2 separate regions of the Homo sapiens genome follow, and region 1 is linked to region 2. The links come from fine-mapping of genetic effects on gene expression. Tissue or cell type: whole blood. Region 2 holds a variant in brackets; the other region holds the start of a gene. All regions are shown on one strand. Distances are between the middles of the regions.

Region 1 (8,000 bases), 130 kb after region 2:
GGGGAGGCCCAGCTGGAAAGCCCTGGAGAGTGGGCATAACTACCCACTTCCCACAAGACCCAGCCAAATGCTACCGTCTCTGTGCGGCTCCATGATCCTTGCCCTCCCAAAAACAGATGACAATTCTCCACCTCTTCAAGTTCTCCCAGAGTGCTCTTCATACCTTTTTAGGGTTCGAGTTGATCATATTCTGGCTTATGTTTATGTCTAACCCAGAGGGAGAGAATAGATTCCATAGTCATCACACAGACCTGGGTTTAAATCCCAGCTCTGTCACTTACTGGCACATTGTCTTAGCTGAGCACAGGATAACTTTTGAGTTTCACATTCCTTCCATGGAAAATGAACGTAAGACAATGTCTAGTGTTGGTGAGTATGTGCGGCAACTAGAGCTCTCAAACACTGCTGGGAGGGGTATACACTGGGACCACCACTTTGGAAAACTGTTCAGCAATTTCTTTGGACATATCTAAGAGAAATGCATGCAGATGTTTTCCCAAATGATCCACGTTAGAATGGTCACTGCAATACTATTAGTAATAACTAAAAATTGGAAACAACCAAATGGTTATCAATAGAAGACTGGATAAACAAATTGAGGTACTATATACCCATACAATGGAATCATTATACAGCAATAAGAATTAACAAACTACTGCTACCTGCAACAACATGGATGAATCTCAGAAACATAATGTTGAATGAAAGTAGACAGACACAAAAGACTGCATACTGTGTGATCCCATTTAGGTAAAATTAATGCATGGTGCTAGATGTCAGCAGAGTGGCTATCCCCTCACTCAGGGGAGAGTTGGAAGGGGAGCTTCGGAGGCTTCAGAGTGCCAGCAATGTTGTTTCCTGATCTGGGTGGTAGTTAGATGGATATATGGGATGATTTTGTATGTGATCAAAATTTTACATAATTTTTTAAAATGAGACTAATGTGAGACAAATGAGATAACCCATGTGTAATGTTTTAAACGGTCCATGGATAACGTGAATTCCTTCCCTCCTCTTTGTGACTTGGAGCCCCATAAGGGCAAGAATTGTGACATTCCTACCTCTGTCCCCTTGTCGTAGGCTAGTACACAGTAGGCACTATATAAGTGTTGGCTGATTTTAACTTAGTTCCCCAGCCTCCTTTCTCAAGGCCGCTACTCAGATGCTCATCAGGTAAAACAACTGATAGCCACTTCAAGCACTTTCCTAACACCTCTCCTAAGGCGAATTTGCATTTTACCAGTTTAGAAACAAACTAAAGGGGTGAAACTGAAGTGGAATTATAGTCACCAGCTAGGACCCAGATAAGGAGCCAGAGGCACAAGGACCTTTCCAGCCTCGAAAAGCTGAAATCACATGGCAGAGGGAAGGGACACAGTTACAACTTTTGGCCAGAAGCACAGGCCATCAGCTCCAGATGCTCCCAGGATGATACCCACCTTAATGCCCATGTTTCTCCTGATGGAGTCCTTGGAATTCAAATTCCTGCCTACAACTCTAATACCAGGCAACACTTCAGGGGGCTACCACAGATTTCCTAGAACCCCATAGATCATCTATTTAGGGATTTTTAGAACTGCTTCAGGATCACCAGGGTGAGAAGGGGAAGCCAGAGCAGTTCCACGTTATCCATACTATATGTTGGCGTTCTGGGTAAGAATTCACTGTGAAACAGAAGTTTGAAAACCACTGCTGTCTGGTCTAACCCACTTGTTTTTACAAGAGGAAGCTGAGATCCAGAAAGGGGAAGGGACTCACTGAGCATCATACAGGTGACCCATCCCGCTCCTCTTCCCAGGGCTTCTTCTGTTGATAGCCACCCCAACTCCTCCAAGATGTCACCAGGGTTGGCAAAGTCAGTGGCCTCCTGAGGGACAAGCTAGGAGGAGGTGTCTAGGGCTGGAAGATCACCTCATAGGAAACTCTCAACACTCAAGAAGCCCTCTCCACCACTGGCCCAGCTCACTCTGCAAAGTGAACTCTCTCAGTTCCTCATCCCACCTCACCAAGTGCAAGTGAGTGAAACGGGACCACAGCAAGAGGGCAGGCAATGGTTGGGCAAAACACACACGACCGTCTCATTACACACACCCCCATTAGGAATCATCACACTCAGGCTCTGGAGAGGCTGCCAACAGAAGGGATGGGGCTCCGGCATTACAGAGCTCCTCTCTACATTCCAGGCTTTGACCCATCACAGTCTCCAATGAGGAAGCTGGGGCCCACAGAAGGTCAGCCACCTGCCTGAGTTGACACAAGAAAAACTTGGTCTCTCTGGCAAAGATCCAGCTCCCTTGGGAAGCCTGCTTGTTCACCCCACAGCTAACAAATCGGGAGGCCTCAAGGAGGTGGGCAGGGTCAGTGCGGGTCTCATTCCTGCCAGCCAGGAACTTACCCCAGAGGAGCAGACCTCCAGCCACATCCACACACCCCTGACCCCTCTGCCCAAGTCTCCTCTGAAGGTGCTGAATCATCAGTGGTGCCACTTGAGGGTGCTCAAAAAACATCTTGGGAGATGAGCGGTTTGGGGAAGGACAGGGCTGTGAAGTTAGCTGTGAAGAGGCCAAGGCACCACGGCCTCTTAGGTCAACAGGACTCTCCCAGGAATATCTTCCACAGAGGCAGTTGGGAGTCGCAGTGTCAGAAACCAGAGTGGCTGCCCTCCACAGGATTCCAGGATACAAGATGTCAGGCGCTGTCCCTGCACCTGCCCGCTTGCCCCCGAGGCAGCCAGCTATGGTGCCCTCTCCTCCAGTGTGCACCACTGCCTTACCATTACCTGCACGGCCTCAACGAGGCTCACCTCTCTGGACCTTGTTTTCTCTTTTGTAAAGTAAGAATACCAATTTCCACCGTGCAGAGTTACGGTGAGGGTTAGCCAGACCTATGCAAGCCTTGGGACCTCCAAAATGCCTAGCCCAGAGTCCTAGTCAACTGTTGGCAACGCCCTTCCAAGCCGTTCCACCCCAACCTGCAGCACACCTGCTGGCCGCCCCCACGCCCATCCTAGCTCTACCCCAGGCCGGGGCGCCTGACGGCGGGGACCCCAGCTTCATTCAGCCCCAGAGGAAGCTCAGACATCTGAGCACCCTCCTCGCATCACATCCTTGTGCCAGGCGGGAGCAAGAGGTGAGAGAGTCAGCCCAAGCTGAGAAGACTTGGCCGGGAGCCGGGCGTGCTCTGCCCGTTCCAGGGGGCCTAACTCGATGGACGTCTGTCTCCCATCTCCCTGCTGGGTGCTTGGCTCTGCCCGCCGCCTCTACCCTGTCTCCCAGGTCAAAGTGCCAGGCTCCGGAGGGCGCCCCAGGGCAGCGGCGGGCAGCTCCCGCGCTCGGGTGCCGGCCACAATGCCCCGGGCCACGGCGTCAGGCATTGGGGCGGCGGGCCCGGGATCTGCGAGCGAGTGCCCCGGATCTCTTCGCCCCGCCAGCCCCAGACCCGGGCGCTGCTGCCGTCAGGCCGCGCGCCCCGTCCCGCCCATCGAGCCCGCAGACGGGTGCTACTCACGGCGGGAGGCTGAGCTGCCGCGGTCGCGGCCGCGGCAGGCGCGGCGGGAGCGGCGGGCGCGGCGGGCGCGGCGGGCGCGGCGGGCGCGGCGGGAACGGGGGACGCGGCGGGGTGCGCTGGGCTCGGCCCTGCAGTCCTCTCCTCCCAGAGCGCCCGGCACCCGCCCGCCGAGCAGCCTAGGAGCCGAGGGGGCGGAGCGGCCAGCCCCGTCCCAGGCGCCGGCTGGAGGCGCGCCCGGCTGCCCGGGACGGGGCTCGGGGCGCCCCCTGCTGGAGCCCCCTCCGGACAGTCCCGGGGCGAGAGCCCAGCTTCCCGGCCGGGTAGGGGACACCTCAGGGCTCCCAGACTCCCGGGAGAGCGGGGAGAGTCGGTAGCAAGACCCTCTGCGCGTCCCTACCGGCTCTACCGCGCACATGCTGCGTGGCCTTGGGCAAGTCGGCTACCCTCCCCCGGCCTTATCTGGAAATCGATTTGAATGAGCTTATACGTATGACATGGTCTGGCACAATCCTCAGAAAATGGTACTTGTGTGCTCCTCTCCCCACCATACACACCGTGAGCGAGGAAGCCCCACTGAGGAATAGGCCGTCTCCTCCCTCCCAGCCAGAGCGCTCCCTACACCGCAGACTCTCCTGGAAACCTCAAGCCCACAGCGTACAGCAAGGTGGGGGCTGCGATGAGAAGGGCCGCTCTGCTCCTCACTGCCCCCGACCCAGCCTGAGAGCGGCCTGCCCTCGTTTGCCCTTTGTCCTGGCACGGTTGCTGAGTGAAGCCCCCCTCTCACCATCACGCCTTCTCTAATAGAGGACTTGGGAATGGGTTCCTCTCTCTGCCCTCTGCCAAAAAATCCCTGAGGAAAAAAGGAATGAGAGTGAGGGGGTGAAGGGAGGAAGGAAGGGAAAACAGAACTTAAGCCAAGTTCATTTGTCTTATTTCAAAACAAGAGGCTGTTTAGAGGAAGCAAATGAGGACCCCTCCAACCCCTGGAATTTCCATCCCTAAGTCACCCATGGGGCTCCTCAAAAGGGCCTTAGATTCAGAGTCCTACCACCAGGTTCAAAGCCCTGCCCTGCCACTCCGCATGTGTGTTCTTGGGCATGGCTCTTTCTTCATCAGTAAAGTGGGAGAAACGCACCTTCCGGTAGCTCCTAATGAAGCTATGGTGGGGCTGAGATGAGATGGAGTGTGTAAGATGCACCTAGAGGACCTCTACCAGTGTGAGCACACACACACCCTTCAGCCTTTTGGACATTGGGACAAATACAGATGGACCCCACCCCCCAGCTGAGCAGTGCCTCCGGGTCCAGGACATCCTCGGCAAAGAGTTCCTTGTTTATAAACTTCACAATAATTCAGAACAGTGCAGCCAGCGAGCCTCCTCTCCTAAGAGCAGCATGATATATAGAGTAATATCCAAGACTAGAGGTGGTTTCTGATGTCAACGGACCTAAGGGAATGACACCCACTGGTGAAGTTTCACCAACATGAGAAGTCCCCCACCAAACTATCCCTAAACACCTCTTCCTCCATTTCCATTTACCTATCACTGGTGACAAACCATTACCAGCCTTGGTGGCACAGGACAACAGTTTCACTATGTTCATGCATTCTGAGGGACAGAAGTTCAGACAGCACAGTGTGTATGGCTTATTTCTGCTCTGCAGTGTCTGGGATTTCAACTGGGAACACCTGAATAGCTGGGGGCTGAAATCATCTGGAGATTTCTCCATTCTCATACCCAGTACCTGGGCTGTGATGAATCCAAGGCTGGGCTCAGCTGACCCTGCTGATCACCTACATGTGGCCTCTCCATCTCTTTCCCTTGAGCCTCATGCTTAATACCTCATTGTCAGCAGCAGCAGCCCCTTACATGAGTCAAAAGAGACATTCTTGGGTTTAGCAATTGACAAGTTAGTCAGAGTCCATTGCAGCTGGAAGGGTCATTGTCAATTGACCCTGGCCACTTTTCAGATGAGGAAACTGAGGCTCGGAGAAGGGAGGTGACTTGCCCAACATCACATAGCTGGTGAGAGACAGAGCTAGGATTAGAACCAGGCCTCCTCCAGATTCAGTCTGGTGCCCCTTCCACTGTACCTGCCAGAATGCAACTATCTAGGAAGCTACCATCTGGAGATGCATCTTATGCTTAAGGTTGGGTGAGTTCATCAGACCCTCACCTGAGGGCAGCGACAGGGCACTGAACACAGGACCAAGGTGGCCATCAGCAGAAAAGGGGAGGCCCCGAGGACAGTGGCAATGAAGACACAAATTCCAGAATGAAGCCAGAGGCAGTCCAGGTATTAAGAGCTAAGAATTATCCAACTCAGTTCCAGTCCCTGCATGGTTCCCATGGCTGACCAAATCGAGTGTTAATGCCTCACCCTAGCATTTAAGGCCCCAACCCTTATTTTCCTGCTGTGTATGCACATTCCCTTCCCTCCTCTGCATGCACATCCAGCTCTTTTGCCAGGTTGGATTATTGGCTGTTCCTGCCTCCATGCTTTTGTTCGTTTCCACTACCCTTCATCCCATTCTACAAAATCTTATCTATCCTCTAAGAGCCTTCTAAAGTATCATGTCTTCCACAGAAACTTCCCTGGTCTGCCCTCTAAATACCTCTCTCCTTTGAACCTCACCACTCTTGGTTGGTACATCTCTTGTCATCTTCCTTCCTCTATTTTAATTAGTGTCTACTTCTCCTTTTCTCAAGGGCAAGTACAATTTCTTGTCCATCTTTGAACCCATACAGTGCTTGATATCCCAAACCCAGTAAAGGTTTCTTAAACTGAATTAAGGAAGGTAAATATCACAAGGGGCCATAGCTGTCTTGTTTTCTATTGTCCCCTAAGAGCACCCAAGCACCTGGCACTTAGTAGATGCTCAATAATCTTACTTCAAGTGCTTCACTTCTAGGGGGATGTCATTATCCTCTTTTACAGATGATGTAACTGAGGCTTGAGAAATTTGATTTGCTCAAACTCATCCAATTTGTAAGTGGCTGAGCTGTGACATGAATCTTGCCTACTGGTCTCTGAAGCTATTCCCTCTGCTGCCTTCCCTCAACTGAAACTTCCAAGATTTCTAAAACAGTGTTAATCTGGAACTTTTCAGTCCAGGCAGTACATCAGAATAACTGAGAATAACATGGGGTGCTTAAAATCCCCCATGCTTAGACTGCACCCTACATCAATTACATCAGAACCTCTGAGGATGAGTTCTGGGTATCAGTTTTTGTTAAACTCCCCAGGTGATTCCCAGTGCACAGGTTGAGACCCAGTCTGTTCATGTCACAGAGACCTAGGGAAATTCTCAACCCCCTCAATGACAAACACATCTGAGTACCTGCTTTGTAAAAGACATTCCAAGGGACTGTGAGATGGTAGAGTCACAGGACCTGTGCTTCCCAGGGATGAGAATACAAGCCCATAGATAAAGATGTAACCATGGCAGGCAGCAAAGGGCACTAGTCATGGTGATATCCTAAAGCATACTTTGGTGCCTGGCAAGTTTACAGAGCCTAAAAACCTCCTGACAAGGGGGCAAGGTGGGGATTAAGATGCTGCATGTTGGCCATGGCAGATGGCACCTGGGTTGGCTTACAGCATGTGTAGTGTGACGGCTAAATGCAGAGACTCTGATGCCAGACTGCCTGGGCCCACACTCAGGCATCCCAGCATGCAACTTACGTGCCATGTGGTCTGGGGCAGGCTATTTGATCTCTCTGTGCCTCATTATCCCCATAGGTCAAATGGAGCTTATAGTAGCATTTATCTCTTGGGTTGTTGTGAGCATGCAGTTACTTTTCAATTCGATCAGTGTCTGGCACTTGGTAAAGTCCGCAATGATTATTAACTGTTATTATTATTCCCTAAATGTCTGGCAATAAGCTCCCCTGGGGAGGAAATGGATCTTATTCATCTCTGCGCCCCATCCCACCCCTAGCCTGGCCCAGAGAATTGCCAAATGCAGTCTGAAATGCAGTCTTCTTGACAACGGGTCAAGTCCTGACTCTCAGGCTCTCGGCCAAGGGAGTGCACAGGTGATTCCTCCCCAGAGGGCTTGCCTACTGGATGGAAGGCCGGCAGGAAGCTGCTTCTTCCCAAACTGACCTGGTGGCCTGGCTTCTCAGCCCTTCCCAGCCATGCCCACTCTGCCCTGTGCCATCTGCCCTCCTAGATGGGAGGTGTGGAGCAGGCTTGGTTTGGCAACCTTTCCTGCTACCCCCCCCACCCCCGGGGGCACTGGTTCTTGCAGCCAGAGGCAGCTGCTTCAGCCTCTAGCCTTGCTGGACTCAGCACCACAGGGATGGGGCAGGGAAGGGGAGGAGAGAAGGGAGGAAGGAGCTGGGGGATGGGAGGCCTTGCCTCTCTCTAGAGAACCTGGGGGATGGGGATTTCCTGGACATGTGTACACACTCTTTTACTCCGCAAACATTCAATAGTACCTCCTGGGGTTATGTGCTGGAGTAGGGGCAAATAAAGACCCAATGCCAT
Region 2 (8,259 bases):
AAGAAAAAAAGAAGAAGAAAATCCTTAGCAGAGATTTATGCTGGAGAACTTATGAGTTAAATAAGTCTGAAATTTGCTTTAAAATACCCCAGAAGAAAAGTAATGGGAGAGATGAATGAAAGAGGACCCGCATGACTTGATTCCTGCTGGAGCGGGGTCATAGGTCCTGGAATCCACTATCCCATTCCTTATACTTCTGTGCAAGTTTTGGCAATTTTCCTGCTGAGGGGACCATAACAAAAAGTTTAAAACACTCTTTTAAATCTGTGTAATCTCCCTCTCTTTAATCTCCATTCAACTGTTCCAAGTTCCTAACCCCAATCTTGGCTCAGCCCCACCCCCCTTCCAGATTTTACTCATGCCTTCCTCAAGGGACACAGCTTGGGAGTGGAGGAGGGCGGTCACTGGTGGGGACGGCGTCCCTGGGAAGGCCTCTCTTCTCTGCAACCCTCTTACCCTTTCTCAATCAGAATTCCTCTCTCCTTTGATTTCTAGGAGATGAGGAAGCTCTATTTTATCACTCACCATAGCTTTTCCAATCTAGTTGGCTGGGTCCCCATCTGCCCCAGACACTGAATCTTTTATTTGAGGTTATCTTGTCCTTGTCTGTCACCTCCCCCTGAGCCAGAGCACAATCAGTGTTTGTTCAACGGGACTGGACCCTTTTGCAACGTGAACATGCCCACTGCTGGGTCAGGAATTTCACGGACCAAGGAAAAAAGGCATCCAGTCCCACAGACATTTACAGAAGATTGACAGTAGGGGTGACAGCTGGGCACACAGCCACCTCCAGCAAGGGCCGGGCCACCTGTGCTGCGTGATGGAGTGAGGTAGGAAGCCACCATCTTCATGATCACCTGTAAGGGAGGGGAGGGGGCCCATGGGGGAGACTCCAGCTCTTTCTGCCATTATTCCTCTGCTCCATCCCTTCACTGCCAGGCTCCCACAGCTGCAGAATCATCGATTACCAAACCATCACCCCACCTTCTGACACACAGTCAGGCAATGCTAGGCTGTGAGCACCTGCCTCACAGCAGGGACAGGCAGCTGCCTTCCCCAAGGGCCAGCTTGCCAGCTTCCTTGAGAATTGTTATTCAGGGCGATGTCATACACTCACTTTCCCCTCCCAAACAGCCCAGGATGGTGTTTGAACAGAGCACAGAAGCCGACCTTTTATTTGCAGTCTGGGCTGGGTGCAGTGGCTCACGCCTGTAATTCCAGCACTTTGGAAGGCCGAGGTGGGTGGATCACCTGAGGTCAGGAGTTCGAGACCAGCCTGACCAATGTGGTGAAACCCCCATCTCTACTAAAAATACAAAAATTAGCCGGGCATGGTGCTGCGCACCTATAGTCCCAGCTACTCAGGAGACTGAGGCAGGAGAATTGCTTGAACCTGGGAGGCAGAGGTTGGAGTGAGCCGAGATCATGCCACTGCACTCCAGCCTGGGCGGCAGAGTGAGACTCTGTGCGGCTCCCCCACCAAAAAAATTGCAATTTGGTGAATTAAAAATCCTCAATGGCAGAGGGGCCTGCCCACAGAGCAGCACCCACAAGCCTTCCTTCCTCTAGGCACCAGCGAAACAGTCCATTCTCACAGCCCTTCCCGCCATTGTTAGCCCTCCACACTGTTGTAAAAAGTCAGCTGAGGGCGTGTGGGGAGCAGAGATAAGCAGGTCCTGTGGCTGCATCCCACAGGCCCCCGGGCTCCCCCAGCATCAGGTTCCAATGCCATGGAAGGACGGGACTTCAGCTGGCCAGGACACAGAGGAAGGTCATGGTCTCCTCTGCTTTCCCCAAAAGACTTGGGGGCATTTCTCAACTCTCTTTCATTTGTCTTTAGAAGCTCTTTGTACAGAAAAAGGTCTGTTTACGACACGTCTAAGTGAGAAACAGTTACAGTGACTGGACATGAGCATAGAGAGGACGATGTCACTGCTATAAGGAAAACCACTTAGAGTTCGGAGTCCAGCTCACGGCCAACTAAATGGGTGACTCTCAGCACTGTGTATAGCTGATCATGATTCTAAAACAACCACTTCTCCCTCCCTTTTCCCAATTTTCCCCATTCAAATCATTGCCAACATTTTACTCTTTTACTGTATTCTATTTTTTATTTTTTTGAGACAGAGTCTCACTCTGTCACCCAGGCTGGAGTGCAATGGCGTGATCTTGGCTCACTGCAACCTCCGCCTTCCAGGTTCAAGCGATTCTCCTGCCTCAGCCTCCCGAGTGTCCTGAGTAGCTGGGACTACAGGCACCCACCACCATGCCCAGCTAATTTTTATATCTTTAGTAGAGACAGGATTTCTCCATGTTGGCCAGGCTGGTCTCACACTCCTGACCTCAAGTGATCCACCCACCTCAGCCTCCCAAAGTGCTGGGATTACAGGCATGAGCCACCACACTGGGCCTGCATTCTATTTTGACCTTCACTAAAAAGCTTGCCCTGTGTTGCCCCATCAGTGGCTTCCTCTCCTTAGAAACCTGGCTGTGTGAAGGTCAAGGTCTGTTAACACGGCCAAAGGGACATTTAATATTTGCAGTGTCTCAGCACCAAACAAGTATACAACTTCCCGTGACAGGGCAGGTAAGACCTTGGAGAGACTGTAGACAGGTCATTTGAACCAATTCTCTGGGGTAAGATGTAGGAAATGGAGCTTTTGCCATCTTTCATTGGTTCCAAGATATACATTTTTGGATCTCTGAAGTCAGGAGGCATCTCCCAGATGATGGTATCATATTCTTACTGTTGGCCCGGACAGAAGGCAGGTGCTCCGGGAGAGGATAGTACTGTTTTTGCCAGCCATCCAGGGCCACCCAGCCTCAGACTGTTGGACATTACACTCTCTGCTTGATGTTCTTTTGGATCACACTGATAGTGCAAATTCAGAAAGCAAACCTGCATGAGTACCACCGGCTTGGGACTCCTGTTCTCAGGGAAGGATTTTTCACCCCCATTTAGTGTCAAGGTTGAGATGCATGGGTTTCCTTGCTCCCCCTTTCTGCATGGTGGCTCTATTTCTCATTTACCCTCTCATTGAGGGCATCACAGCTTTATGTGGTGGGGGTAGAGAGAGTTTCCTATTAGACGCCCCATCTTGGGCCTTTTTTCTTAGTGGTCCATAAAATGATGATGCATCTTATCACCACGGTTTCTCATAGCTGATGAAGTAAGTTTCTGTTACAAATATTGTATATGATATTTGAAATGATCCTTCATGCATATAGAAAAGGAGACAGGATTCTGAAGAAATGGTTTCATGAGATGAAGCTTTCCTGTCTTGTCCTAAACCACTTCCTGTCTGAGCTGTTCACGGGGCATTCCCTCCCCAGCACCTGGAACCCGCTGGCTTCTCATGACTTTCGGGATAAGGGCAGAGCTCTTCCACATGGCCAAAGCCCTGCTGCTCCTGCTTGTTCTCCGGTCATTTCCGCACTGTATTCCTATTCTCTCCCCTCCAGCTTTCAGTCCTCACATTCTCAACCTTCCACACCGCCTCTCATCACAGAGCTCTGGTATGATGGCTCTGTTGGGAAACTTCTCTCTCCCTGGTTGGCTTAGCTGACCTCCGTTCCAGTGTCACTGCTTCAGGACGCTTCCCCCGATGCTGTCAGACCCTGACGGCAGGCCCCTGCAGTGCTATGTGCTTCTCTCCCAGCATGAACACAAGCTGCAGCTCTATCTCTCTGTGATTCTTGGTCAATGTTCAAATCCTTCGCTGGACTGAGCACTCCGTGAGACAGGAATCAGGCCTATTTTTACTAAACATTGTATCCCCAGAGTCAAGCCGGGCATCTGGAAGTTGGTTGGTGCCTAAGTATAATTTATAAATGGATGGATGAATCCAGGTGTGAGCTGCCCCCACAAGCAGGGAGTAAACTTCTGGAGCCTGGCGCAGCCAGGGGAAGCAGAAAGAGCAACAGACTTGTCATTAGAAGGTCTCTACTTTTGCCATAATGATGTGACCTTGGGAAAATCCCATCCTCTCCCTGTTTCCTCAGCTCTAAATTGGGAATATCGTTTAGTCTGCCTCTAAGATAGGGATGTTTTGTGAGGCCATGAAGACACTTTGAACTATACAAGTTATGCCCCTACCCACAAGCTTCTAGCTCAGCACTAGGCTCATATGCCATGCTCTGTTGACATGAGTTGGTTGACTGTCCCCTCCCCCAGAGAAAGGGAGATGAGATCTTATAATCCTTGGGGAGGGGTGCTCAAAGCTTTGGGTCATGAAACGACCATGTGGCCTTGCGCTTCCCCATCTTTATGTTTGCCCTTTTCAAAAACCCTCA[C/T]GGAACTTCTTAGGCCTTCAAGGCCCAATGGCCTAGGTACATAAGAAAAGGAACCTCCTGTTGAGGACCTTCTGGCCTTTATTCTCGACACAGAGTTGGGGCCGTTAGCCAGAAGAGGAGAAAGGGTGGAGAATGGGAAGACTCCTTCCTTCCTTCTCTCCTGCTTGCAGGCTGGTCTTCAGACAGAGACAGGGATGGGTAGGGACAATGACTTTGCCTTCTGGGACAGAGCTCCTGGGACAATCATCTGCAGGTGTATGCATTCCACCTACACCTGGCAGAATACATGAAGTTGCTTACTTTACCTCTGGGACCTGGACTTTAATATTAAGGTAGATATTTACAGCAAAGCCTTACTACTTTCTCCCATATACCTCATCTTAGAGATGGGCATCCTGGGTTTCTGTTTCATCTGTACTGATTGACTATATCATTTTCCCTCTCTGAGTCAATTTTCTCATCAGTTACATGTAAATAATAATAATAATAATGCCACCCACCTTCCTATCTCACTGAGTTCTTTTAAGGACCAAGTGAGGTCATTTGTCAGACATGAGTGCTTGGTAAGTGAAAAATCAATGCAAACGAAAGGCAATATTATTTTCTCTATGCATTGTAAATCCCTGCTTCTGTAGCAGGAAAGCACCATGCTGACTTAGTTATTCCTAATTAACTCAAATATTACCCAAGATCTACAGTCCATAAGGTATGTAGGCAGAAAGTGAGATATGAACAAATCCTTCATCACAAATCAATTCTCAAGCATTTCCCCAGGGCCAGCCATCCTCCCTCTGCAGAAGGGGACCCTGAGGGGTACTCACTCTCTAATTGTTTTAACAGCTTGGCTGCCCTGCCAGAGCCCTCCCAGAAAACCAGATTGGTGAGGGGAGGTGCAGAATGAAGAATTAACTGGCACCTCAGCAATTCTGGATTCTGTGGAGGGGCTGGAAGGCTATACTACAGACACACACCCCTGCAGGATAATTCTAGCTGGAGGCCGCAGCAGGGTGGATGAGAACATGCTTCTGCAAACCTCTTGGGATGCATCACTGACTGGATTCTGGCGATTAGAGCTTCCAGCCTGCCAGAAATTCCTCAGTGCATGATCTGCTGAGCAGCTCTGACAGGGATTCACTGGTGTCCTGGTAGAATGTGGAGCCCAGGCCCTCAGAGCTCCCACTCTCCAGCTGGAAGCTGCCCACCAGCTCCTGAATCCACTGCAGGTCTGCGGAGAGCTCCTGCCTCAGAATCTCAAACTGGGCTTGCAGATGGTCCAGTTTCCTGGCCATGCTTCCGAGGCTACATCCCGTGGCCTGGATGTCTTCTCGCAGCAGCTTCTTCAATGACTCCACCTTGCGGAACTCATACCTGAGCTGGGACAGGTCATGCCGGGCGCTCTCATTCTCCTCTCGGTACCAAGCTTCCTTCTCATTGAAGATGGAGACCAGGGCCTCCACATCGTCCTGGATGGTATCGTGGGCCTCCACCAGGGCACGGCATCCCAGGTCGACCCGAGCCACGTCTTCCACCACACAGGCAAAACGCTCGAAGTTGACATAGGAGTTGTTGGGAGGCATGCTTGAGTGGCATTTGAGAGTGTACTCTCTCAGGTGCTTGGTCTTCAGCTGGGTGGGCTCTGTCTTCCGCTGTTCAGGGGCTCTGCCTTCTCCTTTTGACTGGTGGGTGTTCAGACAGAAGAATCAGAGTGTTAATTTGCCGCCCACCCCAGAGGGCAGTCCAAAGGGTAGGCAGAAGGCACACAAGCGGCCTCTGGCATTCACTGCATGCGTCAGGCCATGGGGAGAACCAGGGTGGGATGAGCACCTCCTTAGGCCATAAGTGAGGTCAAGGAGTGTGGGGGTGCTGTCTGCATGCTCATTCAGGGCAGAAGGGTCCACAGCCATTAGAGAGAGCTCCACACACATAGCATTTAAGGGGTGCTCACGCAGACAAGCAGGCTGCAGCCAGGACTCCGCAGGCATCTGCGCAGGGCTGGAGCACGCAAGGCCAGGGCTCACGCAGCAGGGCTGAGGAGCATCTCTCCTTCAGGGCTCCTTGGGCCTTCCCCATCCTTCAATGAGCTGATGAAGCTGAGCAGATAAAGCTGACCTCTTCCCAGACGACTCCAGCCCTCCCTGTTCTGTCTTCCACAGGCCTCACCTTCTCTTTGTATTGATTGATTGATTATTATTTTTTAGAGAGATGGGGTCTTGGCATGTTGCTCAAGTTGGTCTTGAACTCCTGGGCTCAAGTCATCCTTCTGCTGCCTCGGCCTCCCAAAGTGCTGGGATTACAGGCATGAGCCACTGCACCTGGCCTGCCTCACCTTTTCTTATCTCCACCTTTCTTATGGTCATTTCATCCTTGCTGGCCTTCTCACATAACAGTTAAGGTGAATGGGAAGTCTGGTGACGTCCCTGGGTGTGCATAGCTGGTCAGTCAGCAGAATTAGGGCCTGAATCCTGCTGAGTCTCACCCTCTCAAAGTGCTCTTCACCACACCAGACCACAAGAGCCTCTGGAAAGCCAGCAGCTGACTGGAAAGCCAGCAGGAAGCCCGACTGCAAGGCGAGTTAGGCAGGGATTCATTTTTTTGCCCTGACTCTCCCCAGAGGGAACAGAATTGCCCTAACAGTGGCTGTCTCTCTTCCCCACCAGGCCTCTGTCTCAGGCCCCATTCCTCAGGGCCTGAGGAGGTGGGTGGCTGATTTAAGTGTCATCCTTGACTTAGAGCCCCAAAAATCAGAAGGAAGGAGGCCTGGTCACAAAGTGGGGGTTTTCAATTGTCATCTATCTTTCTACACCTGGGGAGTCCTGATTTCCACTTGGAGAAGTGGCAGTGACATACCCTTCAACAAAGAACACTGTGTAAGTTGGCCCCAAAGAAAAAGGGTTTCAACTGTGGTTTGTGAGGGTTTCATTTCATAAGTTACCTGAATTTGAGACACACAAACTTAAAATAGCAAGCAAATAAACCTATTCGAATAAGCCCAGGCCCTCTGGGGCCCCTGGCTAGCTTTCATCTGTGCCCAGGGTCAGTGTTTAAAGCAAAGGCCTCTCCATGGGCCCTCTGCATCTGGCTGCCCAGGCCAACCCTGGCGACAGAGCAGGGACCCTTTGCCCATTGGAACTCATGGCTGTGCCCTTACCGTGATCCAGGGGTGTCTGAGAGCCTCTTGGATTGTGAGCCGTTTCCTGCAATGAGGATTGGGAAACAGTGATGATCCATGAGGACAGAAGTTGGGAGCAACCATCTCCGTTCTCACTCTTTTTAGACCTATATTTTGGCATTATTTGGCCACTGCCGTCAAACCAGTGGAATGGAGGATGCAGAGATGGATGGGAGCTGGCTGCAAATCCTGCACTCCAGGGGAAGGAAGCAGTCCAGACAGACCCCTCAATAGAGTGGCCTTGTTACCTACACCCATACTATTAGTCCCAAAGCTGAAAGGCCTAAGAAGAGTCATAAATGCTCCAATGAGCTTCCAGAATCTTCCAAAAGCCAACTCTCCATTGCTAAATCCCTGGTCTGTTTTTCTGTTTGCCTCCTGGATCCGTTCTCTGCCTTTCGCTGCTCTGTACCCAGGTAAGCAACTCTCCCTAGCACTGTTCTTAGACAGGAAAATCAGGGCCCTTGCACTCCAGACAACCCCACTCTGGCCCTCTCTGAAGTCTGTGGGATGGAGAGGACATGGTGTTCTAGTCTGTGGACCTTTCTTCCTGCCCCATCCAGAGCATGCTCTGGGTACCCAGCGCCCTGCAATTCCCTGCCTATTTCCTTCTTTGACCCCACAGCCACGGGACTCACCCTGGCCCCTGGAGAAGGGATAGGGTTAGCATGTCTTCCACCATCCCACTGTACTGACCTCTCTGAGCCTACCAGCTCCTACTCCCAACCTGAACTGGCTTGAAAACCCTGCCACTTAAACTTTTCAAATCTGAATTCCAGGTGCCTTTGGGACAGACT

The links. PIP is the estimated chance that this variant, and not a neighbour inherited with it, causes the effect.
Region 1: it holds the start of DAPK2, and the variant in region 2 is fine-mapped to the expression of DAPK2 in whole blood (TOPMed, PIP 0.96).

Annotation. Positions count from the first base shown.
Region 1 is chr15:64,042,791-64,050,790 of GRCh38, forward strand. It overlaps DAPK2 (death associated protein kinase 2), which reads right to left and starts at 3,695. Exons shown (of 12, transcript NM_014326.5): 1 at 3,508-3,695. RefSeq lists enhancers at 1,979-2,028, 2,079-2,128, 7,669-8,000 and silencers at 3,329-3,548, 3,579-3,638, 3,659-3,868.
Region 2 is chr15:63,917,375-63,925,633 of GRCh38, forward strand. It overlaps DAPK2 (death associated protein kinase 2), which reads right to left. Exons shown (of 12, transcript NM_014326.5): 9 at 7,442-7,487. Among named protein-coding and RNA genes, the nearest start is that of MIR422A, 50 kb to the left of the region's middle. The variant C/T (reference allele first, on the strand shown) is at 4,294.